Homo sapiens: one gene and its partners. The protein of the gene in region 1 interacts with the protein of each later gene in a biochemical or structural test. Each region holds a gene or a part of one and is shown in the gene's direction. Other genes may lie near its edges. The genes, in order: DCAF7, LIG1 and HIPK2.

Region 1 (13,660 bases):
CATTTGTAATTGAAGGAAACAAAAAAATTTAGCTAGAGGTTAATGGAAATATGGGGATAATTTTCCAATTCAAGTTCACAGACCCCAAGTTAAGAAACCCTGCGAGAGAGAAGTATGTGTAGTGGTTGGTGAGCAGCAAATCCTGCCTTAAAGTGATTCTCAGGCTAAGTTTGTGAGAAACCCTGCCAAAGAGGTGGTCGACTTCATAATTTGGAGGAACTTTAGAATTATTGGTTGGAATTTTTAGACCATTGGTTCCTGCTTGCCATGGATAGTGGTCACCAGCAGAGGATAAAGTAAAATGGACACAGCAAATTAACACTGATGAAAAAGGCTAGAAGTGGTCATCTTTTTAGTGTGGAGACATTCACTAAGAAAACATGGTTGTAATTTTTAAAAATTTGCATTAGCATAATCATGTTTTCCTAACGTAAAATTGTACCTAGTTGATCCATAGAATTAAGTCTATCAACAGTTTAAGAAATTGACTTCCAGGTGTTCCTTCATGTGAATAAATTTGGGAATTGTTGCAGAGTAAAGAAACAGATTCTATCAACTACACTTGGAATAAAAAGCCCCATTATAGGGCTGGGCGTGGTGGCTCACACCTGTAATCTTAGCACTTTGGGAGGCTGAGATGGGAGAATCGCTTGAGCCCGGGAGTTTGATACCAACCTGGGCAACATGGAGAAACCCTGACTCTACAAAAACATTAAAAAATTAGCCAGGTATGGTGGCATCTGCCTGTAGTACCAGCTACTTGGGAAGCTGAGGTAGGAGGATGCTTTAAGCTCAGGAGGCAGAGGTTATAGTGAGCCAAGATCACGCCACTGCACTCCAGCCTGGGCGACAGAGCCAGACCCTGTCTCAAAAAACAGCCTCATTATTGGTTATTATGTTTCTACCTTCTTTTGTTGTGGTCTCTTGAGGGATACAGCAAGATTGGTGTTGGAGCAACAGGTTCTCTAAATTTTAGTGTGTGAGAATCCTGAGGGAGCTGCACATTCCTGGGCTCCACCCCTGAAGTTAACAGACTTGGAGATAGGTGACAGACACACTAGTGGTTGAGTGGTCCAGATGGCACTCTCAGAACATGGCCCTGGAGCTGCCTTGGCATCTGTTGGCCAGAGGCGAGAATGTGATCTTTTTGTGTCTGCATGCTCCTAAACATTGGTTCTGCCCTTCCATCCAAGTTCACCCATGAAAAAAGCTCTGTGATTAGCCTGGGTTATCTAAGTCCTGCCACTTCCCAGTTTTGTATTGCCTTGGGCAAGTTATCCTCTGTGTCTCAGTTTCATCATCTGTAAAATTAGGGCAATAAATAATAACATCTACCTTGTTCAAAGATTAAATGAGTTAATATATGTAATGGACTTAGGAACGCCACCCGGTGTGGAATAAGCCATATAGAGATGTTAGCTGTTATTTAATTATTATCATTACTGTACCTGTAATTGAAATATAACCAAAGAGAATTATATGGCTGTTTAGTAAATTTACTTTTGTATTTTCCAGAAAGGATTCAGGAATAAGAGGTCAGAAAGGTAGCTGAAAAGGTCATTATTTCATTCTCTGCCTTTTAAAGACTCTGGGGGGAAAATTCCCTTATCTCTTTCAACCCAACTCATTTTGTAGTCTAGCAGATTCTTATAGTCAGACTCCAAGTAGTGTAATTTTCTAGTTTAAATCCATTTTCTCTTGTTCTACCTGGCTTACCTACGTAAGTCAGATATAAGAATTTGGCATTTCTCCTGTGTTTTGACAATATGTTTGGTCTTTAGGCCCAGGTGTTATTTCCCCTCTTTTATTGGGAAAAGCTGGGTAGCAGTTCCTGGGCTTCTGTTCCACTTAAGTGCATGTTTCAGGGTTGGTTTTGATAAAGATGGCAGTGTGATTGGGATTTAGTTTGCCCCAGTATTTAACTGACTACTTGTGCTCTAAGATTTGGCATCCAGAGAGTATTTTTGAGGTTCTGAGGAGAGACTGTAGGTATATCTGATGCTTTTTGGAGAATCCTAGTAGTGAGTCTGGGTGGCATGACCACCTTGTACTTGAAACACTGGGATGGGTACTCACCTCACCAGCCTGTGTTGATTCCTCTGAGGTTTTTAATACAATTACTTTATATGTTTGATGCATAATTATTTCGACTCCGGTATTTAATTTTTCATCTTGGTATTTGCGGTAGCCCTTCAGGATTATCATTCATTTGCTCATTAATTTAGCCGGTCTGTATTGAACACATACTCATGTGTTTTAGGCACAATGTGTTTTGGTACACATCAGTACTTTTGATAGATATTTAGAATGTCGCAGTGTTCCACGAGTCCCTGTCAAGACTGTCAGCAGGGGAATTTAAGACATAAAACTCTTCTGGTTTTAACTTCCTCCTTTTTCTAGACAGTGAGAGGACTCATTCCCTGTTGTGACCACTGGATAAAAGTGATAATGCTTTAAAAAAAAATGCTACTTTATTGCTTTTTGTCCTAATCTTGTTCACATAGACTTATTGGAGATGCTGTCACTTGAACAAGGAGTGAATCTATGCTCTGTAGGTAGCCTGGCTTGCCTAAGGACTTGCTGCCAAAGCTCTCGCTGCCAGAGCTCTCTGGTCAGCCTCTGAGCCACGAGCCAAAGGTGTGCTGTGCCAGAATTCATCTTAAAGTTTAATAGGGCAGGACCTTGGGTACCTGCAGACACTGGTCCTTGGTAATCAGTCAGGAAGAGGCTTGAAGAGAAAGCAAATAGAAAAGACCAGGAAAAGCTAGTGTATATTCTCAGAATATTGTGTTAGCCGATTTTTGTTTTATTAACAATTGTGGGAAAATGTTCCAGTGACTGGAGTGTTATGTTGATTTGGATAACTTGGGAGCTTATTTTAAAAATTACATATACATACACACATTCACCTTCTTCTTCTGCACTAGGACTGTGTGTGTTAAAGTGGAATATGGCCAGGCGCAGTGGCTCATGCCTGTAATCCCTGCACTTTGGGAGGTGGATGCAGGCAGATCACCTGAGGTCGGGAGTTCAAGACCAGCCTGACCAACATGGAGAAACCCTGTCTCTACTAAAAATACAAAATTAGCCAGACATGGTGGCACATGCCTGTAATCCTAGCTACTTGGGAGGCTGAGGCAGGAGAATAGTTTGAACCTGGGAGGCAGAAGTTGCAGTGAACGGAGATTGTGCCACTGCACTCCAGCCTAGGCAACAGAGCAAGACTGTTTCAAAAAGAAAAAATAAATCAGGGCCGGGCGCAGTGGCTCATGCCTGTAATCCCAGCACTTTGGGAGGCTGAGGCTGGCGGATCACGAGGTCAGGAGTTTGAGACCAGCCTGACCAACATGGTGAAACCCCGGCTCTACTAAAAATATAAAAATTAGCCAGATGTGGTGGTGCGTGCCTGTAATCCAAGCTACTTGGGAGGCTGAGGCAGGAGAATCACTTGAACCTGGGAGGCGGAGGTGTGGTGAGCCAAGATTGTGCCACTGCACCAGCCTGGGTGACAGAGTGAAACTCCATCTCAAAAGAAAAAACAAATTAGCTGGGAGTGGTAGCATGCACCTGTAGTCCCAGCTACTCAGGAGGCTGAGATGGAAGGATCACTTGAGCCCAGGAGGTCAAGGCTGCAGTGAGCCAAGATCTTGCCACTGAACTCCCGCTGGGGTGACAGAGCGAGACCGCCATCTCAAAACCAAAAAAACAAAACAAATGGAATCAGCACAATAGCTGTAGAAAGATGCTATTAGAAAGGATGGGGGGAAATGGAAAATAAGTGGCAGATAAAGTACCCATACTAAAAAGATGTCTTTAGCTTGGTTGAAAAATAATTGTCAGTCCTACCACTGTGAGTTCAAAGAACTTAAGAAAATACAGAACTTCAAGCAGAGATATAGAGGATTGGGTAAAATAAGGCATGGCAAAGAGAAAATATAACATCAGCTGGCAGAGCACACAGGAAAGTAGTGGAAGAGAAAACTAAAATTATCACAGGATTAAAAGCCACATTGGAAACAGAATAAAGGCTGGGCACAGTGGTTCACTCCTGTAATCCCAGCTACTTGGGACACTGAGGCAGGAGACTTACTTGAACCTGGGAAGAGGAGGTTGCAGTGAGCCGAGATCATGTCACTGTACTCCAGCCTGGGTGATGAAGTGAGACTGTCAAAAAAAAAAAGAAAGAAAGAAACAGAATAAAGATGAACACACAGTGCTGAAAACAGTAAAGGTTAGGGAGGACAGATTGAAAAATGAAACTGAAGAAAACAATGAGAACATAATAGATGCAGAAAGTAAAAGAGATCTGACGTAAGTATAATTGGTGTCCCTCAAGAAGAGGACCAAAGAAATGAAACAAACTCAAATATATGGTTAAAGAAGAACTTAGAAGTAAAGATTTGAAGTGATAAGTTCAAATTGGCATGATTTGAACTTGCCAAAGATTTGAAGTGATAAGTTCAAATTGGCATGAAGTGATAAGAAAAATTGGCACTGAACAGTTGGCACTGAAACATTTCCTAGGAAAATTTCTTTTTTAAAAAATTTATCTTATTTTTCGTGTGTTTTGTTTTGTTTTGAGACAGTGTCTCACTCTGTTGCCCAGGCTGGGTGCAGAGGCATGATCCCAGCTCACTGCACTCTTGACCTCCTAGGCTTAATCGATTGTCCCACCTCTGCCTCCCGAGTAGCTGAGACTACAGGTGCACACCACCACGCCCGCTAATTTTTGTATTTCTTGTAGAGGCAGGGTTTTGCCATGTTGCCCAGGCTGGTCTCAAACTGTGGGCTCAAGTGATCCACTAACCTCAGTCTCCCAAAGTGCTGGGACTACAGGCCTGGCACAGAGCCTGGCATCCCTAGGAACATTTCTATGTTTTAAGGATGAAGAAAGAATTATTTGGACACCCAGACAAAATGATCAAGTCCTCTTTAAGAGGGGAAAAGAAATTAGGCTAGCTACATTTGATGACAGAAGGCCATGGAGCAATGTCTAGGAATGTACAAATACTGTAGATTGTGCTGCTATAAATACTTGGGGATATACTTAGGCATATGTAAGGTTTATGTGGAAATAATAATGCTGGGGAACACAAAACAATACTCGAAAAATGGGAAGGTATTCTCTTTTCTTGTATAGTAAAGCTTGGTATCCTAAAGATGTCAGTGTCCCTAAACTTAATGTAATCCCTGTTTAAAATACCACAGTTGTTTTTTCTGGAGACAGGGTCTCGCTCTGTCGCCCAGGCTAGAGTGCAGTAGTGTGAGTATAACTCACTGTAACCTCAAACTCCTGGGCTTAATCAGTAGGTGTCTCACTATGTTGCTCAGACTGGTCTTGAGCTCCTGACCTCAAACAGTCCTCCTGCCTGCCCAACCCAAAGTGCTGGGGTTACAGGCATAGGCCACCATACCTGGCCAAAAATACTCCAGATTTTTAATAATGGTTTTTTAGAACCAGGCAAACTGATTGTTTCTACAGATAAATTTTACAAACATGCACACATTGTCAAAAAACTTCTGAAAAGGTGGACTAATGATGGATATTAAAACATAATGCAAAGATATAATAAATAAGATCGTTTGATACTCTAAGAACTGATGTATAAACAGAGTCTAGAAATGAACTCAGAATACAAAAAGAAATGTAGTCTGTGCTAAAGGTGATAGGAAATGAAGAAAAAATATTTTTAAGGCCAGGCACAGTGGCTCACGCCTGTAATTCCAGCACTTTGGGAGGCGGGGGCAGGCAGATCACGAGGTCAGGAGTTCGAGACCAGCCTGGCCAACATAGTGAAAGCCCGTCTCTACTAAAAATACGAAAAATTAGCCAGGCATGGTGGTGGGCACCTGTAATCCTCGCTACTTGGGAGGCTGAGGCAGGAGAATCACTTGAACCCAGGAGGTGGAGGTTGCAGTGAGCCAAGATTGCATCATTGCACTCCAGCCCGGGTGACAGTGTGAGACCCATATATATATATATATGTATATATATATACATACATATATATACGTATATATATGTATGTATATATATATGTGTATATATATGTATATATATATGTATATATATGTATATATATACGTATATATATATGTGTGTGTATATATATATATATATATTTTTAATAATTGGTATTGAAACCAGAAAAAAAAATTGGATCTCTACCTTAAGCTTTGTACCAGCCGGGTGCAGTGGCTCACACCTGTAATCCCAGCACTTTGGGAGGCTGAGGCGGGTGGATCGCCTAAGGTCAGGAGTTTGAGACCAGTCTGGTCAGCATGGTGAAACCCTGTCTCTACTAAAAATGCAAAAAGTAGCCGGGCATGGTGGCAGGTGCCTGTAATCCCAGCTACTCGGGAAGCTGAGGCAGGAGAATCGCTTGAACCCAGGAGGCAGAGATTGCAGTGAGCCGAGATGGCACCATTGCACTCCAGCCTGGGCAACAGAGTGGGACTCCGTCTCAAAGAAAAAAAAACCTTGTACCAGAATTCCAGATAAATGGAAGAATGTAAACATATAACTGTAAAACACGGGAGAATCTTGGTGTGAGAAAGCCATGAAAGTAGAAGTAAACTATATAAAAATAAAATCTCTGTAACAAAACCAAAGTCAAAAGATAAGTGACAAACTGAAAAAATACATGTAATGTCCTAGACAAAGAACAAATCCCTTAATAACTGCATATAAAGATCTGCAAATCACCAGGAGACCAGTCACCCAGTAGAAAAAGAGAAATAGATAGGAAGAGTTTCCAGAAAGGATATGTAAATGATTCTTGAACGTATGAAGAACTGAACCTCATAAGAAAAAAAAAAAATGGAGTTTCAGCTAGATTAGGAAAAATAAAAAACCGTGGTAATCTACTGTGTGTGTGTGTATACACGTATGTGTAGCTTTCCCATGCAGTTGCTATCAAAATTTAAATTGGCATTATTTTCCACCTGGTAGTTCCGCTAGTGGTAATTCATCCTACAGCTATACTCATGTGGTTGAAATGACTAAAGTGCAAGGATATTCATTTTAGCATTATTTGTAAAAGAAAAATATGAAAATATTATTATTAGGGAAATTGTTGAATAAATTATGCTACCTCCATGCAGCTGTTAAAAGAATGAGCTAGCTTTTCATATACTGATATGGAATATTTTAAAATAAATATTCGGTGGAAAAATATGTAGAAGAGTAAACACCTGTGTTTTTTAAAAGCATATGCATATACATATGTACACCCATATGTGGTTGTGTGTAGAAGGGATACACAAGAAATTGATAACATTGATTTTTCCAGGGAAAGGGACTGGGATGTAGGGGCTCTAATTTGTACTGTAATTGCTTTGCTTTTATGCCTTTCAAAATTTGGGCCTTGTGTATGTATTACCTAGTAAGAAAGTTAGTAATAAAAAAGCTAACATTAATAAAAATTAAATCTTAGTAGAACTTCAGAAAGAGGAATAAACAGAAAGGAATGAATGAAGAAGCACTAGGCATATAGTAGCAAGAAGCAGTTCTTTTTATAGAGAAGAAGTCAGGCATGATAATATTAACATCAGATAAAATTCAAGGCAAAAATGTTGAAACAAAAGGAAATATTTTACATGTTAAACATACAGGCTGGGCGTGATGGCTCACACCTGTAATCCCCACTACAGGCTGGGTGCAGTGGCTCATGCCTGTAATCCCAGCACTTTGGGAGGCTGAGGCAGTCAGATCACTTGAGGTCAGGAGTTCAAGACCAGCCTGGCCAACATGGTGAAACCTTGTCTCAAAATACAAAAATTAGTTGGGTGTAGTGGTGTGTGCCTGTAATCCCAGCTACTTAGGAGGCTGAGGCAGGAGAATGACTTGAACCCGGGAGGCGGAGGTTGCAGTGAGCTGAGATCACGCCACTGCACTCCAGCCTGGGCAATAGAGCAAGACTCTATCTCAAAAAATAAAAAAGAAAAGTACAACCGACTAAGAATAAAAAGTCATAAGTCTTTACATATCTAAGAGTATAGCGTTTAAATAGAAAGCAAAAATTTTGTAAATATAGGGAGAATTTGGTTCATATGTTGGAAATTGTTAAGTGAAGTAGACAAAACAAGGATATAGAGGGTTAGAAAATTACAGTTTGTTCACACCTGTAATCCCAGCGCTTTGGGAGGCTGAGGCTGGCAGATCATTGGGCCCAGGAGTTTGAGATCAGCCTGGGCAACATGGTGAAACTCCATCTCTATCAAAATATAAAAAATAGCCAGATGTGGTGGCACCATGCCTGTGGTTTCAGCTACTTGGGAGGGTGAGGTGGGAGGATCGCTTGAGCCCAGAAGGCAGTGGCTTGCAGTGAGCCTAGATCGAGCCACTGTACTTCAGTCTGGGTGACAGAGTGAGACCCCATCTCGAAAGAAGAAAATGTGTTATAAGTATAGAGAGCTTTGCATTCAACGGAAAATTCACTTTAAACAATAACCCAATTTACAAAAACTGTGTATTTAGAAAAAAAATTTTTTTAAGTTGAAATCAACTGATTGGAAAAAAAATGCTACATATCAAAACTTACAGGAAGGTGAGGAACCTGAAGCTCAGCTATGTGCTAAGTGGCTTGCCCAAAGTCATATAAGGGGTAAAGGAGGGCCAGAACTAGAGTGCTGTCTGTCTCCAGAGTGTTCAGAATAAATGTATGTCAATGTCCAAAAAAAAAAAAAAAAAACTTAGGGGGAAAAAGAACATGTTGAAAAACAGAGGAACACTTACCCTACCAGATTAGAATAAACATACTGGAATTGATATAGCCAGAGAGATAGGTGGAACTGAATAGAATATTTCAAAGACAACTTTAGTATATATAAATGTGAAATATGTGATAAGATAGAACTGTAATTCACTGGGTAAAAGATTACATCGTATGGCACAGTTGTTCATCTAGCAGAAAAATTTAGAACCCCTAATTCACAGTGTATGATGAAAACTAATTCCAGATCAAACGTCTAATTATAAAGGAAAGTCCACAAACATTATTAGAAAGTTGATCAGGAAATTTGTCATGAGGCAGTGGGGGTGCGCACGGACACTCATTAATTAATTCCAGAGTCAACAAAGGAAAAGATTGGCAGATTCTATAGTACATACAAATAAAACATTTCTCTGTGAAAGATATGCCATGGACAAAGTCAAAAGACAGCAGAAAATATTTTCTTTTTTTATTTTTTATTTTTTATTTTTTATTATTATTATTATACTTTAAGTTTTAGGGTACATGTGCACAATGTGCAGGTTAGTTACATATGTATACACGTGCCATGCTGGTGCGCTGCACCCACTAACTCGTCATCTAGCATTAGGTATATCTCCCAGTGCTATCCCTCCCCCCTCCCCCCACCCCACAACAGTCCCCAGAGTGTGATGTTCCCCTTCCTGTGTCCGTGTGTTCTCATTGTTCAATTCCCACCTATGAGTGAGAATATGCACAAGAACAAAAAACCAAACACCGCAGAAAATATTTTCTTTTTTTTTTTTTTCTTTTGAGACACTGTCTTGCTCTATGAGCTGGGCTGGAGTACAGTGGCACAATTCACAGCTCACTGCAGCCTCAACCTCTCAGGCTCAAGAGATTCTTCCACCTCAGCCTCCCAAGTTGCTAGAATTACAGACGCACAACACCCTGCCTGGCTAGTTATTTTTATTTTTTGTAGAGATGGGATCTCGCCATATTGCCCAGGCTGGTCTTGAACTCTGGGCTCAAGCAATCCTCCCACCTTAGCTTCCCAAAATAGTGGGATAATGGGCATGAGCCACCAAGCCCTGCCTGGCGGAAAATATTTTCAAAACATGACAGACAATAGTAGCTAATACTCAATGCAATAGAAAAATGGACAAAGGGTATGAATATCTAGTTCATAGGAGAGGAAATGCAAGTGATCAGTAAACAGGAAAAATGCTGAACCTCACAGGTAGTTAAGGGAAATGAGAATTGTGATATCATCTTTCCCTTTTAAATTTATAAAAATTAAGTTATTGCTTCTAGTGCTGTTGACAGTATGGAGAAATGAACACCTTTACATACTGCTGCTAAGAATGTTAGTTGCTACAGTCTATTTGAAAAGTAAGTTGGTGTCTATTAAAATTTAAAATGCACATACTTTCTAATACAGAAATCCCACTGTTAGGACATTGGCCTCCAGAAAAAAATACAGCAGTTCATAAACACATATGTACAAAGGCATATAAATAAGTAGTGGTGGCTGGGCGTGGTGGCTCATGCCTGTAATCCCTGGAGCTCAAGAGTTTGAAATCAGCCTGGGCAACATGGTGAAATCCCATCTCTATAAAACAAAACAAAACAAAAATTTAGCCTAGCATGGTGGTGGGCACCTCTAGTCTCAGCTACTCGGGAGGCTGAGATGGGAGGATCACTTGAACCCAGGAGGTGGAGGTTGCAGTGAGCTGAGATCGTGCCACTGCACTCCAGCTTGGGCGACAGAGTGAGATTCTGTCTCAAATAAATAAATAAATAAATAAATAAATAAATAATAAAAATAAGTAGCGGCAAGTAAGAGAAAACAGTGTACAGCACTGGGGGAATCCCGGTACATAGATTAAAAAAATGATTTGGCTCTTCATATTGCTCTGAGGGATGTCCATTATTTTGTCAAATTAATAGAGATTCATAGCCTTGGCTCTAGAATTTCATTTTTCTAAAAGTTGAGGGAAAACTTTACACTTAATGTATATATGTTTGACCATATAGAAGAATGTAGAAGCAACACACAACAAATTATGTGATATCTTGGGGATGACATAGAGGGATGTTAACTTTATACACACACACACACACACACACACACATACACATATATACACACACACCTGTGTTTTGTTTGATTTTATATGATGTGATACACTTTATAATCCTCTTACAATCTAAAAGTACATTTAAAGAATGTAATAAACCCAATTGGAATGTCATCAAAATAGATAAAACTTGTAAAAATGGACAAGAAAATGTTAGAGGATATAATGGTAAGGGGTTCAGGCTAGAACTCTGGTATCTAAATTCTAGCACTCACCTCTTTTTCCACTGGAGTCTTATCAAGGAAATTATATACAAATAATAGTAGCCAAAGGGGAAACCTAGCATCATTTTATTAATAACCGAACAAGAACCACTAATGTGGTGCTGCTCCCTGGTGAACTAAGTGGGGAAAATGCAGTTTGGCCTTGAAGCCTCAGTGAAACTTTCTGCTTTTCTACCTCTGACTCAAGGACAGACCCAATCTGACCTCTCCTACCCAGTTGTAGGTTCAGAGAAACTGGAGCGGAGGATGGTCAGGCCCATTCTGAGGAGGCCAATTTGCCTGTCCATGTAGGAGCAGGATAAGCCAGAGCCAGAGAGCCATGGGACATGTCTGACTGTAGAGTGGTCAGGCCCATGCACCTGTCTCGGGCTTCAGCCAATCACTTCAGCAATTCTTCCCCCACCGGAGGAGCTAGTGAGTGGTGGGGACAGAAGAGCAGAACTCCCACGCTCAGTATTCCCTCCATGGGGGACTGGGGCAAAAACTCATCCTTCCTATGGGCATAGGCGGAAATGTGGTGTTGGGGGATGAGGAGCTTAAAGAATGAGAGTGCTACTAACAATTTGTAACAGTACAGTCACGAATCTAGATGAGGAGTTGGGCTCAGTGGCTCATGCCTATAATTCCCAGCACTTTGGGAGGACCAAGGTGTCAGGATTGCTTGAGGCCAGTAATTGGAGGCTGTGGTAAGCTATGATCATGCCACTGCGTTCCAGCCTGGGTGAGAGTGAGACCCCATCTCTTAGAAAAAGAGAGAAAGTCCTTACAAATCAATAAGAAAGAGATATCCACAACCCAGTAGAAAAACTGGACAAATGTTCTAAGCTGGTGATTTCCGTGTAATGGTGAAGAGTTTGGGTAGTGGGATGGGACTGCCTGTATTTAAAATAGAGCTTTGTGGCCGGGCATGGTGGCTCACACCTGCAATCCCAGCACTTTGGGAGGCTGAGGTGGGCGGATCACCTGGGGTTGGGAGTTGGAGACCAGCTTGACCACCATGGAGAAACCCCGTCTCTACTAAAAATACAAAAATTAGCTGGGCGTGGTGGTGCATGCCTATAATCCTAGCTACTGAGGCAGGAGAATCACTTGAACCCGGGAGGTAGAAGTTGTGGTGAGCCAAGATCGCACCATTGCACTCCAGCCTGGGCAACAAGAGCAAAACTCTGTCTCAAAAAAATAATAAATAATAATAATAATAAAATGGAGCTTTGTGATATTGGGCAAGATATTTAACTCAACATTCTTTACTGAAAGTGGGAAGAATAATAGTACCTACCTCATGGCAGTATTGAGAGGATTAAATGAGATGATGTGTGTAAAGCATTAATAATGCTTATACTTGGTCCATGTAAGTGCTCAGTTATTAATGATTATTGTTATTCAAAAGTAAAGGTAGTCAATGAACAAATGTACTCAGCCTCTGGCCAGGTGCAGTGGCTCACGCCTGTAATCTCAGCACTTTGGAAGGCCTAGGTAGGCAAATCACTTGAGGTCAGGAGTTCGAGACCAGCCTGATCAACATGGCGAAACCCTGTCTCTACTAAAAATACAAAAATTAGCTGGGCATGGTGGTGTGTACCTATAATCCTAGCTACTCAGGAAACTGAGGCAGGAGAATCGCTTGAACCCAGGAGGCAGAAGTTGCAATGAGCCAAGATTACACCACTGCACTCCAGCCTGGGCAAGAGAGTGAGACTCTGTCTCAAAAACAAAACGAAAATCCCAGCACTTTGGGAGGCCGAGGTGGGCGGACCATGAGGTCAGGAGATCGAGACCATCCTGGCTAACACTGTGAAACCCTGTCTCTACTAAAAATACAAAAAAATTAGCCGGGCGTGGTGGTAGGCGCCTGTAGTCCCAGCTACTCGGGAGGCTGAGGCAGGAGAATGGCGTGAACCTGGGAGGCGGAACTTAGAGTGAGCAGAGATGGCGCCACTGCACACCAGCCTGGGCAAAAGAGCGAGACTCTGTCTCAAAAAAAAAAAAACAACAGTTACACTTATAGAATCTGTCCAATAAAAACATTTGCACACACATACAAAAATAAATGAGTAAGAGTAGTAGTATTAGCAAAAGTAGAGTAGTATTGTATTAGCAAACAATGGTACATAACCAAAACAACTGAATAGTTAAATAAATTATGGTGTGCTTACCATAATCTGCTATAGAAGAATGAGGGAAAGGAGAGCTATTTGTACTGAAGATCTTCTAAGATTATTGTTAAAAGCAAATTGCAGAATACAGCTGACAACGGTGGCTGACACTGGTAATCCCAGCAATATGGGAGGCCAGGGCGGGAGGATTGTTTGAGCCCAGGAGTTCGAGGGAGACCCTATCTCTACAGACAATTCAAAAATTAGCTAGGTGTGGTGTCTGTGTACCTGTGGTCCCAGCTCCTTAAGAGGCTGAAGGATCGCCTGAGCAGGAGGATCGCCTGAGCCTGGGAGGTCAAGGCTGCAGTGAGCTGTGATCATGCCACCGCTCTACAGTTTGGGTGACAGAATGAGACCTTGTCTCAAAAAAAAGTTGCAGAATACATTTTATGATGCAAGTCTATTTAAGCTTTTTTCTTTCTTTCTTTCTTTTTTAAACAGATGAG
Region 2 (6,637 bases), on another chromosome or scaffold:
CAGGCAAGAGAGCGTGTGCAGGGGAACTGCCCTTTATAAAGCCGTCAGATCTCGTGAGACTTCCTCACTATCACGAGAACAGCACGGGAAAAACCTGCCCCCATCGTTCAGTTACCTCCCACCAGGTCCCTCCACGACACATGGGGATTTTGGGAGCTATGATTCAAGACAAGATGTGGGTGGGGACACACGGACCCTGACACCATCTCTGTCCCACTCTTTGGTTCTCTCTCTCCATTGCCCTCTCTCTCTACATCTCTGTCCCTGTCCCACTGTGTCTCTGTCTCCTTCCTCCAGGTCTCTGGCCCTTTCTCTGCCTCTTTTTGTCTTTAATGTCCTGCCTCAGCCCCCAGGGCCTTTCATTTCTTTCCATCTCCCATTCCTCCCAACTCCCACCTTTCTCAACTTTTTACTTCAAGGGGGTCTTGTTTCTTTTCCCTTCTTTCACTTTCTGTTTCTCTTTCTATTTCTGTTTACTTCAAGGGGGTGTCTTGTTTCTTTTCCCTTATTTCACTTCCTATTTCTGTTTACTTCAAGGGGGTGCCTGTTTTTTTCCCTTCCTCCCTCTCCCCAGCCCTCCAACACTTGGCCTTGACTTTGAGATTCCAGACCCTCTGTTCCTCTCTTCCTCTGCTCACTGCAGGCGCTGGTGCTGCCCAGCCCACGCCCTTACGTGCGGATAGATGGCGCTGTGATTCCCGACCACTGGCTGGACCCCAGCGCTGTGTGGGAGGTGAAGTGCGCTGACCTCTCCCTCTCTCCCATCTACCCTGCTGCGCGGGGCCTGGTGAGTGGCAGAGGACCTGGCCGTGGCCCTGTGTGGGATTCTGGGCGGGCACACAGAGAGCAGAGTAGGGAGGGGACCTTGGCTCACATCTGCTCTTCCAGGTAAGGATCAGGAAGATGAGCTTGCATTTTATTTGAGTGTCAGATAAAAAGATCAAAACATTTTTTCTTTAAAAATGGGCCGGGCATGGGGGCTCGTGCCTGTAATCCCAGCACTTTGGGAGACCGAGGCAGGCAGATCACTTGAGGTCAGGAGTTCAAGGCCAGCCTGGCCAACATGGTGAAACCCCATCTCTACCAAAAATACAAAAATTAGCCATGTGTGATGGCGGGTGCCTGTAGTCCCAGCTACCCAGGAGGCTGAGGCAGGAGAATCGCTTGAACCTGGGAGGCGGAGGTTGCAGTGAGCCGAGATCACACCACTGTACTCCATCCTGGGTGACAAAGCAAGACTCTGTCTCAAAAAAAGAAAAGAAAATTCTTTTCTTAAATAAAAGAATTCCCAGGGCAAGCACAGTGGCTCATGCCTGTAATCCCAGCACTTTGGGAGGCCGAGGCAGGCAGATCACTTGAGGTCAGGAGTTCAAGACCAGCCTGACCAACACGGTGAAACCCCACCTCTACCAAAAAATAGAAAAATTAGCTGGGTATGGTGACCCGTGCCTGTAGAGACGGGGTTTCACCATGTTGACTAGGCTGGTCACAAACACCTGGCCTCAATCCGCCCACCTCGGCCTCCCAAAGTGCTGGGATTACAGGTGTGGGCCACCATGCCCAGCCAAGAACTTACATTTTTGATCTAATTTTTAAAAATGTTTTACCATGCTGCACGTTAGACAGCCAGGGACCCTTAGTAACAAGGCACAGGAGCCGGTGTGTATCCAGCCCTTGCTGTGCAGTGGGCACTGTGTGGTCATCAGCGTGTCACTCATAGACACTCATTTAATCCTCTCAAAATCCGTAAGACGTAGTGACACAAACATCTCCATTTTACGGTGAGGATGTAGAGCCCTAGAGAGCCTGAGTAACTGCCCCTGCATCACGCGGCTCCTGAGAGTTGGGAGCTGGGATTGGAATCCCACAGTCAGATTCTAGAACCCATACCCTGGCGCCGTAGTTCAGCCTCTCAGCCCGAATTACCGTCATTATCGTAACGGCTGTAGCAGGTGGCATTTTTTTTTTTTTTTTTTTGAGTTGGAGTCTCGCTCTGTCACCCAGGCTGGAGTACAGTGGCGCAATCTCAGCTCACTGCAAGCTCCCCACCTCCCGGATTCACGCCATTCTCCTGCCTCAGCTTCCTGAGTAGCTGGGACTACAGGCGCCCGCCACCACACCTGGCTAATTTCTTTTTGTATTTTTAGTAGAGGCGGGGTTTCACCGTGTTAGCCAGGATAGTCTCCATCTCCTGACCTCGTGATCCACCCGCCTCGGCCTCCCAAAGTGCTGGGATTACAGGGGTGAGCCACCGCACCCGGCCAACAGGCAGCATTTCTTGAGCACTTACTGTGCCCGGGTACTGTTCCAAGCACTTTGTCAACTTGTTTAATCCTTATGACAACCCATCGTTCGGCCCCGTCATGTGGATCAGGAAACAGTCCAGAGTGGAGGAGGGAGGAGACTGAGCAGGGGGTCGCTGGGGCTGGACCGCAGGAGTCTCCATCCCGCTTCCGCAGGTGGATAGTGACAAGGGCATCTCCCTTCGCTTCCCTCGGTTTATTCGAGTCCGTGAAGACAAGCAGCCGGAGCAGGCCACCACCAGTGCTCAGGTGAGGTCCTGGGAAGCAGGGGTGGGCCGCCCAGCTGCTTGGCCCTACCAGCTTTTTAGCGTGGTGGCCTCTCTGGAACCTTGTGGAGGTGGGAGCAGCCAGGGAGCTTCTGACCACCCCGTCCCACCCTCTCTCCGCAGGTGGCCTGTTTGTACCGGAAGCAAAGTCAGATTCAGAACCAACAAGGCGAGGACTCAGGCTCTGACCCTGAAGATACCTACTAAGCCCTCGCCCTCCTAGGGCCTGGGTACAGGGCATGAGTTGGACGGACCCCAGGGTTATTATTGCCTTTGCTTTTTAGCAAATCTGCTGTGGCAGGCTGTGGATTTTGAGAGTCAGGGGAGGGGTGTGTGTGTGAGGGGGTGGCTTACTCCGGAGTCTGGGATTCATCCCGTCATTTCTTTCAATAAATAATTATTGGATAGCTACTTTGTGACAGGGTCTGTGCTGGGCTCTGGGGGCAAAGCTGTCATGGGTGTCACCTGCATAGCATGTAGCCATGTAGCCATGGCCTAGGAACTGCCAGAGCCAGTGCCAGCCATGGAACTGCCTGCAGTGGTGGGCGTCTTCTCTATCTGCTCTGTGCAGTGTGACCGCCACTGGCCACCTGCAATGCCCGAGCCCTTGACAGGTGGCCAGCATGACAGAGGATGCGAATTTGTTTTGTTTTGTTTTGTTTTGATTTTGTTTTGAGACAGAGTCTCGCTCTGTTGCCCAGGCTGGAGTGCGATGATGAGATCTCAGCTCACTGCAACCTCCACCTTCCGGGTTCAAGTGATTCTCTTGCCTCAGCCTCCCATGTAGCTGGGATTACAGGAATGTGACACCACGCCTGGCTAATTTTTGTATTTTTAGTAGAGATGGGGTTTCGCCATGTTGGCCAGGCTGATCTTGAACTCTTGGCCTCAAGCGATCCACCCTCCTCAGCCCCCCTAAGTGCTGGGATTACAGGCGTGAGCCACCACACCCAGCCATACCAAATATTTTATTTAATTGTATTGGACAGCAGTAGTCTAAAATCTTTACATACATATATTTTTTAACTTGTTTAACCTTCCAGCCATCCCACAGGGAGGCACCATCGTGAGCCCTGTTAAGGAAGACAAATGCAGTGTCTTAAAATAACACAGATGTATTCCCTAAACAGTTTCGGAGGTCAGAAGTTCAAAATCAGTTTTACTGGGCTAACATCAAAGTGGTGGCAGGGCCGGTTCCTTCTGGGAGCTCCAGGAGAGAAACTGTGTCCTTTTTCCAGCTTCCAGAGGCCACCTGGTTCCTAGGCTCATGGCTTCTTCCTCCGTCCTCAAAGCCAGCAGCATCGCACCTGCAAATCTCTCTCCTGAGGTCATCAGGTCACGTCCTCTCCTCCATCAGATCTCTGTTTCTCTCTTCCAAGTACTCAAGTGGTTACATTTAGGGCCCCCTGGATGATCCAGGATAATCTCATTTCAGGATCCTAACTCAATCCCAAAGTCCCTTTAGTCACATAAGATCACACATTCACAGAGGCCAGGCACAGTGGCTCACGCCTTGGGGAGGACTTGGGGAGGCTGAGGTGGGAGGATCACTTGAAGCCAGGAGTTCAAGACTAGCTTGTCCAACACAGCCAGACTTCATCTCCTCTAATTTTATTAATAAAATTAATAAAAATGTAAAAGGGCCAGGCGCGGTGGCTCACGCATGTAATCCCAGCACTTTGGGAGGCTGAGGCAGGTGGATCACCTGAGGTCAGGAGTTCGAGACCAGCCTGGCCAACATGGCAAAACCCCGTCTCTACTAAAAATACAAAAATTAGCTGGGCATGGTGGCGCGTGCCTGTAATCCCAGCTACTAGTGGGGTGAGGCAGGAGGATCACTTGAATCTGGGAGACAGGTTGCAGTGACCCGAGATCGTGCCACTGCATTCCAGCCTGGGCGACAGAGCGAGACTCCATCTCAAAAAAAAAAAAAAAATAGGTCACATCAAAGGTTTCAGCGATTAAGACCTGGATATCTATGGGGGCTGTTATTATTGCAGCCACCCCACATGGGATGATATGTTAGAGGAAAACCATCGGGAAATGGTCAGACAAGGCAAGCAGGATGCCTGGAACACCCACCCAGCCCTGGGCACCACGGGGCTGGCTTGGGGAAAACGGCTGCACGCGGAGCGGGGCCCAGGCTCGGGTCTTCCAGAGCAGGAGGCCTCTAACCCCGGGGCCCAGCGTGGAACAGGAGCTTCCGGGCATGAGAGTGTCAGGGTGTCCTGATACTCCCGCAGGGGGGACACAGGGCTCCCAGCTGTCCCCTGCCCCTCACACTCTGTTTCTGCCTCTCACATCTGCCCTCCCTCCTTCCCTTCTCTCTCATCAGGTTCCTCTGCCCTTGTCTCCCACCCGCCCTCTCTCCCCTTCCTTCTCTATCTGCGAGGCTTTGCTCTCTGCCGTGCAAGTCTGTGCCAGGCTTACTTTGCTGTCTGTCACTGTGACTCAGCCTCCCTGTCTCTCTTCCTGTGTCTCCATCATGGTCTCTTGTGCACACAATCTCTTGGGCATTCTGTTTCTATTTGTTGTAGCCCAAGAAGACAACATTGCCTTCCGAGTCTCCTTGGGGCTAGCAGTGGCCCTGTAGCCCTGTGTGGGCAGACCCAGGGGACATAAGCACAGGGGCTGCTGGGGACTTCTGGAGAAACATCTTTCCTGACCAAAAAGGACAGCCCTGGTTGTGGCAGCTCCTCCCCTCCTCCTGCCTTGACTAGAGATGATGGCTGGAGCCAAGTCACCACCTTGTAATGATGAGGAAAAAGAGTAACAAACTCTCCTGACGACCCTAAACCGGCGAACCTAGGGCAGCAGCTGCCTAACTGTGGGCTTTTGTTCATGGGAGTAGGGGAAGAATAAGCCCCAGGGCGATTATGCCACTCTAAAACATGGCTTTCAGCCGGGCACAGTGGCTCATGCCTGTCATCCCAGCACTTCGGGAGGCCGAGGCGGGCAGATCACCTGAGGTCGGGAGTTCAAGACCAGCCTGACCAACATGGAGAAACCCCGTCTCCACTAAAAATACAAAATTAGCCGGGCGTAGTGGCACATGCCTGTTACTCCCAGCTACTCAGGAGGTTGAGGCAGGAGAATCGCTTGAACCCGGGAGGAGGAGGTTGCAGTGAGCCGAGATCGAGCCATTGCACTCCAGCCTGGGCAACAAGAGCAAAACTCCGTCTCAAAAAAAAAAAAAAAAAAAAAAAAGACTTGTTTCTCATAGCTAAGAGTTCCTGATACAGCTCTGCCTTAAAGAACTGGCAAATTAGTGTGCATTTGTGTTTCAATTTCAAATAAAATGTTTAAGGCAAAAAAAAAAAGTAAATGTTGTATGTCAGGGGATCCCCACATTACTGGCTTTGTGTGGAGACCATGGTTCCTTTGGGCTTGGCTCTTCCTCCCTGCACCAGTGCAGGGCCCCAGGAACACATCTGCCACACACGGCCGCCATGTCCCTCTGCTGAAGCTAGTCAGGGTCATCCTCACTCCTCAGTGACCCTCATGATGGCTCCACCAGGTAGGTACTTTTATTCTCCCCATTTAACAGGTGAGGACACTGAGGGGCACAGGGATGTAAGTTACCTTCCCTAGGTCCACTATCTAGGAAGTGGTGGGCCAGGGTTTGGTCCATGCTGTCAGCTCCTTGACCCTGCATCTATAACTACTAACTATACTGTGGAGAGCCTCATGAGCTCCTGCGAGGTGTAGAACCTTATCCCGCAGGCGGGGCAGTGGCATGGTCAGGTCTAGGAGTGAAAAGATCCTGCGATGGTTGGAGTTGCGGGCACTGAAGAGGTGAGCCTGGCGTTAGGGGGAGCAGGGGAGACCATCTTCCCCCTGGTGAAATCCTGTTCTAAAATTGGTGATACTCCTGCCTTGGCCTCCCAAAGTGCTAGGATTATGGCCTCATATCTATTTTTAAAAAATAAGAATTCAAGCTGGGTGCGGTGGCTCGCAACTGTAATCCCAGCACTTTGGGAAGCCGAGGCAGGTGGATCACTTGAGTTCAGCAGTTCGAGCCAGCCTGGCCAACATGGTGAAACCCTGTCTCTACTAAAAATACAAAAA
Region 3 (10,589 bases), on another chromosome or scaffold:
AGCCCACGAATCATCTAGAGCATCCTCTAGTCTTTTGTGGGCTCCCTCCTTCCCATTTGAAGAGACATTGTTCAGAGGAAGAGGGGAAGATTTGAAATGTCAGGTCACGGAGGAGTGTTTAACTGGAGCCTGGTGAACCGCAGGGCAATTTGCTTCTGCTCACTGGGTTCTGACTGGCCCGTCTGGACGTGGGCCCCCATGTCTCTGTGCTTAGGGCCTCTTCATGATGTTTTGGATGTTTCCAAGGGAAGTGGGTGAGCAGATCAAGGGGTGGGAGAGTCGAGGCTTGATGCCAGTTAATACTGTGAAGTGGAGCGTGCGGTCAGTGGAATTCAGAGGAAAAAGAAGGGTTGGAGCAAAGCGGCATTCATCTCCTGGACTGTTAGCCTTTCTAGTCTTCCTGGTGGCTGAGGTGTTCACGGGCTGGGGGAGCCAGCTGACCTTTGTCCTCTTCAACCTAGAAGACTCAGCCCGCCCAGACACCAACGTGTGAGACGGATGGACATCAGGAAGGGAAGGGGAGATTAGCCCAACTGCTGACAGAACGATTTCCCTTGGTTGGACCTTGGGAATGGCAAACACTCATATTGGAACAAGCTTGGGGTGGAAGATTTAGGCCGTGTGAGCATGTGTGAGTGAGTGGAACAAACTTTCTTGGAAACTGGAGGGAGGAGATGAGGAGGCTTCGGGAAGTATTACTGATGGCTCATGGTTGAGAGAGCGACGTGGGGACCCAGCTCGCCCCAGCTTTTGTCCCAGGTTCTCTTTGTCTGATGCTGAGGGCAGGGTGGGGTGTGGGACCACCACTCTTGTTGGCCTGTCAAGTAGACCCTAGGACAGAAAATGGAAAGAAGGAAATGGCTCGGTGCTCTCAACTAGCAGAGAGAATTGAGGAGAGGTAAGGGTTCCTTCTGCAGGCCAGCCTGGGACTCCACAGCGCCAGCAGGAGTGACTTGGCCACAAGACATTCCAGCCCCAGGGACTTTGCAGGCTTCATTCCCTGTCTGTGTCTTTTCCTTCTGGTGTGTTTTACAGACTTCTGATGGGGAAGCTTCAAACTTGAGCAGGCCAGAGATGTCCTTACCAAATTGGAAAGGAAGGTGAAACTGTTCCTTTCTTTAGCCAAAGAACCCTTCTCAAAGACGCCTCCAGAAATGGACAAAATGGCCTTCCCTTCGTTCCTTTCCAGGCAATAATGACATCATTAGTGATGCAATTCTATTTGTCTTTCTCTTTCCTCTCTGTCCTTTTTTTTAAAAAAAAAAAATGCATTTATTTCAAAACTGTGCTATTCTTTTAAGAGGAGTGGAGGTGACCCCTTCGATGCTGCTGCTATCGGGAGACAAGGTGCCATACCAATACGTGGGCTTGACTAATCCCAGGCCACCATGGGAGAGAGCAAAGCAGGGCTGCCAGGAGTTCAGTTGCATCAAGGGCGTAGAGCACGCGGGGGCTGGGCTCGGAATAGCAGTACTTTTCCACTTTGATGCCTTAGAACTCTCACTTCTCATCTCCACAGACCAGACTCAGTAAAATCTCAGGCCACTAGAGAATGGAAGGCGGTGAAACAGGATTTAAATGCAAAAAAAACCTATTGGAGGCTTTTGGCACCGTGGCTCACTAGAGGGACCCAGCATAGTAGAGGTTTCTCTTGTTGCAGCTTCTGAAAAGTTCAAAAAAGAACTCCAGGCCGTTCTTCCCTCAAACCCAGTGAGAGTTTGCAGAGAAGTGCCCCCTGCAGGGCTCCCGTCCCAGAACACCAGCACCAGAGAGGGTCTTCCCGATGCCCCCCGCTGGACTTGCCCAAGCCTCTGGGAGCCCCTCATCTCAGATCCCTGTGTTGAACATGACACTGACTGTCCCTTATTTGTTAAAATTTGCAATATCTCTCAAGTAAATAATAGCCAACATTTGTTGAATGCTTTCATGACTCCCGGGCTAAGGCCTTTATGAGCGTTGTCTCAAGGGGCCCCAACAGCCATCCCACAGGGAGGGGGATAACAGCCCCCATTTATAGATAAGGGAGCTGACCGGATGCTCTGAGAAGTGGCAGGTGTTGAAGGAAGGATAAAGCAGTGATGGGCCAGAATCCCCAAGGTTCCCTTTTTTGTTCATCAGGCCCTTCCTGAGATGTGATTTTTAATCTTTTAACTTTTTTTAATTAATAGCAATGCGTGGCCTCATATTTCTATGAACCATTTAGTGATACTCCCGCTTCCTGCATGCCACACACTGTGCTGGGAATTGCTCATGGGTTGTCCTGTTTCATCTTCTCCGTAGCCCTGTGAGATCGGCAATATTAGTCCCCCTACAGCCAAGGAAACTGCCCAGAGCCACACAACTCTTGAGGGGCGAGGAGGGCTTGAACCTGAGTCTGCCCAGCTCCAGAACTGAGCTTGCAGCCATTAGCCACAGCTGTCTCCTGCATGTCTGAGCAAAGAAAGGCCTTTACACAGCATCACCCTGTGCCATCCCATGCACCGTGGGACTCAGCTAAAGGACTGTGCAAAGAGGGGGCTCCTGAGTTGGATTTAGGCAAAAGGGGCAGAATTCGTTTGATTTTTAGAGAAAATCTCTGGAGAGTTTCTTTTGATTCATAGAATTCCTTTTAGATTTCTTTCCAGCATACCAACTAGCTTTAGTAGTGCTGCTACAACCAGCTCTTATAAGTAAGAGTGAAAAAGTATTCTTTTCTTCTTTAAAAAATAAGTTTTTCTTGCTTATAGTTAATTCTAGAAAGGCAATACTAAAGGTATATATTTTTTTCAAAATGCTATTTTTTACTGCACTTGATAATTATCCTGACAGCTCTGATCTCTGTAATAGATTCACTCTTCAGCTCTGGGCAGAACCAGAGGCAGGGTTCACACCAAATTTGTAAATACCATATGTGGGTCTGGTGTCCAGGAACTTTTTTCTTTCTGTTAAAAAAAAGAAAAAAAAAAGAAAAAAAAAAAGAAGTAGAGGTGGAAGAAAGACAAGACTTAGAGGAACAAAAGAATGTTTTCTTTTGAGATACTCTTCTCAAAGAAATAGCAACAATTGTATAAACAGGAAAACCAGCCAGCTTTCATGATAAAAGGAAGGCGTGTCTCTTGCCCTGGTATGAGATTAACAGAAATACAGATGCATTTTTATTTTGATTGAAAGATGGTGAGAATGTAGAAATGCTTAGGACTAGATTTTTAATTTTTTAAAATAACTATTATCATTTATTATGAAATATTTGTTCAGTTGTTTTGAGTGGGTTTCTTGTTCCTTTTTTCATTTAAAACCTTCTTTGTTGACTGGCTCCAGGCTTGTTTGCCTAAATTCTTAGGTAGTTTACACAAGTTCTAGAATCTTTTAGAACTTTAACTCCATTGGAAGCAAACCTAACTAATCGGAGTTTGAGATCCTGGTTGGTTTCAATAGGTATTCTGGAATTCTGGCAGAACACCTAAAGATTTTTTTTTTTTTTAGAAGGTTTTAGATACATTATCTTACACAAACTGTGACCTAATGGCAATAATTACCTCAAATGTGGGCATTCATCCTGGTTTTAGCCTTTTTTGAAATCATGTAGCCAGCTTGATCTTGGAATTTAAAGACTATGAATTCTCTGTGGGCTGAAAATAATGATTACTTCATACCCCCGGTCATCGTTGCTTAAGTGAATTCTGAAAATAGCTCATCTTTACAACAAAAATTAAACCAAGGAAGAGATTATTCTTTGTGTGTTGTACTCAAATGCGATGTTCAAATGCACATGTTAAGTATATATGTTTTTAGCTACTGTAAAATGCTGTTAGCCTTCTAAGCTATCAAAACAGTCACATTTTAAATGAGTAAACTAAACAATTGACTGTGGATACTTAAGCATATTTCTGGCTACGTTTTATAGTTAAAGTGTTTTATAGTTTACATTTAGACTGGTACTTTTTAAAGAAAAGTTCTGTTTATAACTGACATCCGCAAACCCCAGTGAATGCCTCTTAGTTGGAGGTTGTGTCTCCCCCAAGGCAAGTGTGTTGTCCCAGACTCTTCTGTAGTCCAGCATGCGCACTTCCCTCTGGATTATTACTTTCCACGTGAACTCAAGAGAACATGAAAGGCAATCCAGATGGAGGGAAAAGGTGTGAGTCCGCAGCCCGGGCCAGATGCGAAGGTCTCATGCGTGTCGTCTAAACACTTGTCTTCAAGGCCTTCTCTCTGACATCTTGGAAGAGTCATTGAGAACAGATAACCTGGTTCATTGATTTTTGTCTTGATTTGAATATTTAACTTATTAATAGATCCACTGATTTCCAGGCACCAGGCAGTAGAAGAGACTGGGATTCAGGTGACCATGAAGGCACAGCTGCTACTTCTGGGCCGGGGGTGATATTTTGATCAGCGTTTTGTAGGGGAGGACCATATACCCCTATTCCCATGGTCGCTGGCTGGGTTTTCCATATATCTGCTGTCATTTATTCGTTTTCCCCTTAAAAGCAAAATCAATGTAAAAGGCTATGTTTACGTTTTACTCATTGTCCAGCTTAGACTCAAAGTCTAGTTCGGTGGGAGGGGGACCTTAGCATCCTCTCAGAGATGGTCAGGGCTGAGCAGGAGGAGGCAGAGACAGAGGGGCAGCTCAGCCTGGTCCATTGAGACCCACTCTAAACAGACATCATATTTGGAACAAGAAGATGCTTCGAGACAGGAATGGGCCCCACTGTCATGCAGAAACAGACTGGGGGAATGGCAGTTTCCCTGAGTCTTGGTTTCTTTTATGTTTTCTCTTGTGCCACCACCAAACTGCAGAGGACCTGCTGTGACCTAAAGGGCATTCCTTTAGCAGATAAGACCTTGAAAACTGCAAAACACCTGGGACCAGGGAGCTTTTAAAAAATACAAAAAAATACCACATTTGCTTTTTCCCTGTGAACTGTATTGACAGCGTGTTCTTAGGACAGTCTTTTGGTGGAAATGTTACTGTAAAATAGTTTTCATCTCACCCCTCCTAATCATACTCCCACTTTCCTGTTTGTGTGGTGGTGTTGCTGTTTTTTCCTTTACATGAATTAACCAAATGAATTTTGTGTCATTGTTTTTGGGGCTTATATTTTTAAAACATAGAAATTGCCTTTTGTTCATTTGAAAAGTAAGTATGTTGTATCTGAAAAAGGGCTCTGCCTCTGCTCTCCCTCGCTTCCTTGTAACCAATCTCCAAACGAATCTCTCCTGGCACCGCCCCCTTCCTTATATAGGGTCACTGTCCCCGGGGCCACCTCTGCCTCCACCCTGCTGTCACCACTGCCCTGGGCCAAGGCACCCAGGACTCCCAGAAAGCGCGAGAGCCAGCAAGAAGGCCCCACTCAGCCTTGAGACTGGTGGTCACACCTCCCTGTCAGAGTCGCCTGCTGGGCTGAAGGGGCAATGGATTGTCATTGTTGAAATTGTTTGGCTCAGGTTATAAGGAGGAACTTGGGAAGTAGAAAGTGACTTGACCATGTGCATCCTTGGTAGCTTCCTGTAACTAACAAATGGAACAGAGAGCACACCCCCGCCCCGCCCCACCCCAAGCAGATGTTCCCGTCAGCGCTGCCCTGAGTCAGTCGGTCCCCCGTTTCTGCTCTCCTCCCTTTTGTGTTCCTGCTCACTTCAAGCTTCTTCCATGGACTTTCCAGGGCACAGTCATCTCTAGCCCCCAAATCATCTCTTCATCCTCTGTGTGTGCATTTTTTTAACCAAATGAAATAGACAAGAAAGTCATACTTTGGGGCAGCAGAATTTCTAATTTAGTAGAATCACTGTATAGAGATAGATGTTGATATATATGTTTGTGTATATATATCAAACCAAATTGGATAGGAGAAGTATAGCTTTACAGATGAGGAGAAGGAGCTCTTTAGAGGTCGGAGTCAAGACTGGTGTCTTGGACGTGCATGGGCTGTGTCCCAGGCCACTCCGCACACATGGGGCTGAGGCGTGGCGCCGGGCCCTTGTCATCCACCTCACCACGGCAGAGCCAGCAGGCCCTGTAGGGTGCTGCTGCTGTCTCACTGGGTCCCAGCTTCAAGCGCATCAGTGGGTGACGGGGGCAACAAATCAGAGTGACTGGAAGTTTCCATCCCGTTTTGCTTTGACCACGTGTACTGAGCTGCAGCCTCTGATACTCTGTCACGTTTCCAAAAATGGTATCCATTAGGATAGAAAGAGAATGGATCTGCAGAAATGTTTACCTTTCAACTGCTCATGAATTCAGGACACTGGATAGAAAGACTCACTCCCCAAAATGAGAACAGGGAAGAGGAGACCCGGCGACACTAAGTCACCAGGTCCAAGGAACGTGGCTCCCTCCCCAGGGTCATCTCACCTAGATCTTTCTCTCCCAGGTCATCTCAGCTCAATCTCAATAACCCTATGAAAGCCCTGGTCTGTTGTGTTCCTTCACCGTACGGTTTCTGTAATAAAAAGTGTTAATCCATGTTAATCTGTGTGAAAATTATTGCGTGCAACAGTATTTTCTCGTGTACCTCTTTTTCCTATGTGAATTGTCCCTCTTTTTTATTTATAAATGTCTACTTTTGTTTTTTTAAAGACAAACCAATGTGTTGTAGACCTATATGTAACCTATTCCTTAGTCTCATATTATAGGTATGTTATAAGAATGGATATTTTACTTGGCTTTAGAATGTTTTACAAGAAAACTAATTCTTAACTGATCAAGTCCTTGCTACTAAAATGCTTGTGTTTTTCATCATGACGTCGTGTGCTTCTAAATTAATCATTTTCGTTGTAGAAAAATGGAGTGAATTTATATTAGTCTTGGAAACTAATAATAGCATTGTAAATTTATGAGATGATTTTAACAGAAAAAATATAGAAGAATATAGTTATTTTAATTGTAATATTACTAACTGTAGGGTGAGAAAAAGGGGGGGGGGTCCCATTGTGGTGAACTATGTTATAGCTTGTTACTCATAGTTTCTTTTTGATCATTTTTTCGGTCTCCGAGGTGAAATGACTTATTAATTAAAATTTGTAAACTCACATATGCATATTGTATATGTGTAGAAATGTAATCACACTTTGTCTTGGAATTACATTAAACTGTTTGAAATCACTGTACACCTGCCTGGCATGCTTATTTATCCTGGAACCAGACCTGTCATAAAAGCGAAGAGGTTATTGTTACAAGTAACATATTTGGGGTTTGTTTGTTTATTTAGATGGAGTTTTGCTCTTGTTGCCCAGGCTGGAGGGCAATGGCACGATCCTGGCTCACTGCAAACTCCGCCTCCCAGGTTCAAGTGATTCTCTTGCCTCAGCCTCCCGAGTAGCTGGGATTACAGGCATGCACCACCACGCCCGGCTAATTTTGTATTTTTAGTAGAGATGGGGTTTCTCCATTTTTTGGTCAGGCTGGTCTCGAACTCCTGACCTCAGATGATCCACCTGCCTCGGCCTCCCAAAGTGCTGGGATTACAGGCATGAGCCACTGCGCCGGGCCGAGATTATTTAATGGCTCTGGAAATGTGTAGAAGCCACCACTGCATTGAACATTTGCAGAGAGAGGTGGGGGGCCTTGAGATCACATTACTACCAATTCCCATGCAGTTGAGTGGGGCTAAGAGTCTCCCAGCTTCCTGCTGCCTCTTCCAAGCCATTTCAGCCCCATCTGCTCCCAATCTCTGTCCCTGACACCTAAGGTGTGGCTGTCACCTGCTGTCCTGGAAGCTTTCCAATATGCATCCCGGATCCTCCGCACCCAGGCCCTGCCGTCTCACCAGACACCATCAGCACCCGGAGCCTCGTGGCTTGCTGGCCCATTGCCAGGGCCCTTGCCACTGCGCACTTGAGCTACGTGCGCCACAGCCCCGTCCAGGCGCTGTGCCTGCAGCAGCTCCACCTCAGCAAGCCTAAGAAACGCCACATCCTGCTGGGACTGGGGTTTCCCAGCCTTCTGACACTCTTTTTGTCTTAAATTATGGTAAAATATACATAATATAAAATTACCATTTTAAGTGGACTACTAGCAACGTTAAATACGTTCACATTATTGTATAGGTGTCACCACCATTTCCAGAATTTTTTCATCATCCCAAACACAAGTTCTGTCCCCATTAACAACTCCCCATTTCTCCCTCCACCCGGTGCCTAGCAACCACCCTTCTACTCTGTCTCCATGAATCTGCCTATCCTAGATATTTCATGTAAGTAGAATCATATATTTGTCCTTTTGTGTCTGGTCTATCTCACTTAGCATAATGTCTTTAGGGTTCATTCATGTTATGGCATACATCAGAATTCCATTCCTTTTCATGGCTGAATAATATTCCATTGTATGGAGAGATCACATTTGGCTGATCCATTTATCTGTTGATGGACATTTGAGTTGCTTCCACCTTTTGGCTGTTGTGCAAATGCTGCTGTGAACATTGGTGTGCAAAAGATCTGTTCAAATCCCTGCTTTCAGTTCTTCCGGGAGTGTACCCACAAGGGAACTGCCGGATCCTACAGCAATTTTAAGATTAACCCTTTGGGGTCCCATCATTCTGTTCCCCACAGCAGCTGTACCGTTTCACATTCCCACCAGCAATGCACAAGGTGTCCTGTTTCTCCACCCAGCACTCATCCTGGCTTCCATTTCCAGGATTTTCAAGTCTGGGGAGCTCTGGGTTCCAAGCCCTCGGTCTTCTGTGCCTCTGGGTTGGCCAGACTAAACTCCACAGCCCTTCCCTCCACCCACCTTTTCCCCTACACCCTCAGCTCACAGCCTTTTGCCTCTGCCACACCCCCTCGCAATGGCTCAGTGATTCTGCTGTCCACCTCTGCTCCGAGGGCTGCTGGGGAAGACCACCAAGCCCTGAAAACGAATAACCTCCAGCTTCGCCAGGTCTTCTGTTCCAGCAGCAACTTCTGTGGCTAATGGGAAACACCGATCTCTCCAGGCCCTGAGCCCCACTCTCATGAGACCTCTACTCCCCAGGCAACCCAAAGAGGTTAAGGCTGCTGGACAGAGTGCCCTCATCCCCCTCCTCCAGTCGCAGTGGCATCTGCCTTGCCGCCTCGGATCCCGTCAGCCCTATATAGGAGAGGAAGGCCCTGTGCTTCCCCCGTCCTTTCCTCTCTCCCGAGGGCTCTTTCTCCGTCAAGTCTCCCCTCCCTCTTTCAGATCTTCAGCCGTGTCTCCTAAATGTCCTTCAAGAACCAGCCTGAGTGCCCTCTCTAGGGAGCTTGCCCTAACGCTCCTGACTGAGGCAGTCAGCGCAGGTCTCGGTTCCCAGCGCCTTGTGCATTGTTCTCATTAGGCCACACTGTCAACATTGCTTCCCTTATTTTCCTTCCCTACAAAACCCTAACATTCTTGCAAGTAAAGATCTGTCTTTCATCTGTTTCCAGGGCATCTTATTATGATGCCAGGCACAGAGTGGGTGGTCAATGAACCTTCGGGTGAATGAACAAACCCCTCAGCCCACCTTCATCCAACCCCCAACCCACCTTTCCACTCTCCAAATTCAGCATCTCCCAGAATTCCAGTAATAAAAACAAAACCCTGAATGTGGCCCACACTTCAACTCGGATTAAATTCAACTCAGGTAAAATGTAAACTACATAAAATCCATGCAACACATTCGGATAAAGCTTCAGAATTCTTCCATCATGCATTTTGTCATTTTTATGACAAATGCATTGAGAGGAATCACATTGTGTGGAAATGGAAAGGGAAGTAGATTCTGCACACCAGTGAGATACGAGTGGGCCAGGCTGGCGCGGCGGCGGAGGGATCACCTGAGGTCAGGAATTCAAGACCAGCCTGGCCAGTATGGTGAAACCTCGTCTCTACTGAAAAGACAAAAATTAGCCAGGTGTGGTGGCTACTCCCAGCTACTCGGGAGGCTGAGGCAGGAGAATGGCTTGAACCCAAGAGGTGGATGTTGCAGTGAGCCGAGATCATGCCACTGCACTCCAGCCTGGACAACAGAGCCAGACTCCATCTCAAAAAAAAAAAAAAGATACGAGTGGGTCAAAGGGGAAGGCAGTGTAGCTGTATCCAAGGAGCTCACACTCGTGCACCATAAAGTTGCTTAAGTCTAAAGTGAAAAGATAAACTTACTGTTGTCGATATTTCCCTTAAGCATATTTAATATTGGGGTAATAAAAATGATAAGCTGCTTAATAGCCAAGGCGGCCCCTAGAGAAAGACCAAGCAAACAAGTAAATGGCGCCCTCACTTAGCAGCCAGGTTGTGGTGGTCCCTGTTGCGGCATTGGCTCTAGAGGGCGTGCTCCTGCATCACAAACCCCTCCTTGCTTTTAGGGCACATGGCTGGGTGTCAGCAGCTATGCCCTAGCCTGTTCCAAACAAGTGTAAAGTTTTTTATGACAGTCCAGCTTATATGTGTTTTCCAACCCTTTACTAGAATAGCTAACTTTAAGCAAACATTAAGTATAAAAGCAGAGCATACATTAAGAGCAAAGTGTAGATGTAACACTATTAGGGTTGGATGTCCTCATGTCTCTTAACTTTCATTTTCAGTCCTTCCTTTTTGCCAGCATTTGGCTTTAAAGAAGGAATCTGTGCCGCACGCAGTAACTCACACCTGTAATCTCAGCTACTTGAAC

What was found.
Region 2: the proteins of DCAF7 (region 1) and LIG1 form a complex in vitro, tested with the Homo sapiens proteins (one study listed by BioGRID).
Region 3: the proteins of DCAF7 (region 1) and HIPK2 form a complex in vitro, tested with the Homo sapiens proteins (one study listed by BioGRID).

Annotation. Positions count from the first base shown.
Region 1 is NC_000017.11:63,553,336-63,566,995, forward strand, and holds part of DCAF7 (DDB1- and CUL4-associated factor 7), read left to right. Parts: intron 1-13,660. UniProt on the Homo sapiens protein: Involved in craniofacial development. Acts upstream of the EDN1 pathway and is required for formation of the upper jaw equivalent, the palatoquadrate. The activity required for EDN1 pathway function differs between the first and second arches.
Region 2 is NC_000019.10:48,111,788-48,118,424, reverse strand, and holds the end of LIG1 (DNA ligase 1), read left to right. Parts: intron 1-643; coding exon 644-787; intron 788-2,459; coding exon 2,460-2,552; intron 2,553-2,692; coding exon 2,693-2,776; 3' UTR 2,777-2,980; downstream 2,981-6,637.
Region 3 is NC_000007.14:139,558,073-139,568,661, reverse strand, and holds the end of HIPK2 (homeodomain-interacting protein kinase 2), read left to right. Parts: 3' UTR 1-7,092; downstream 7,093-10,589.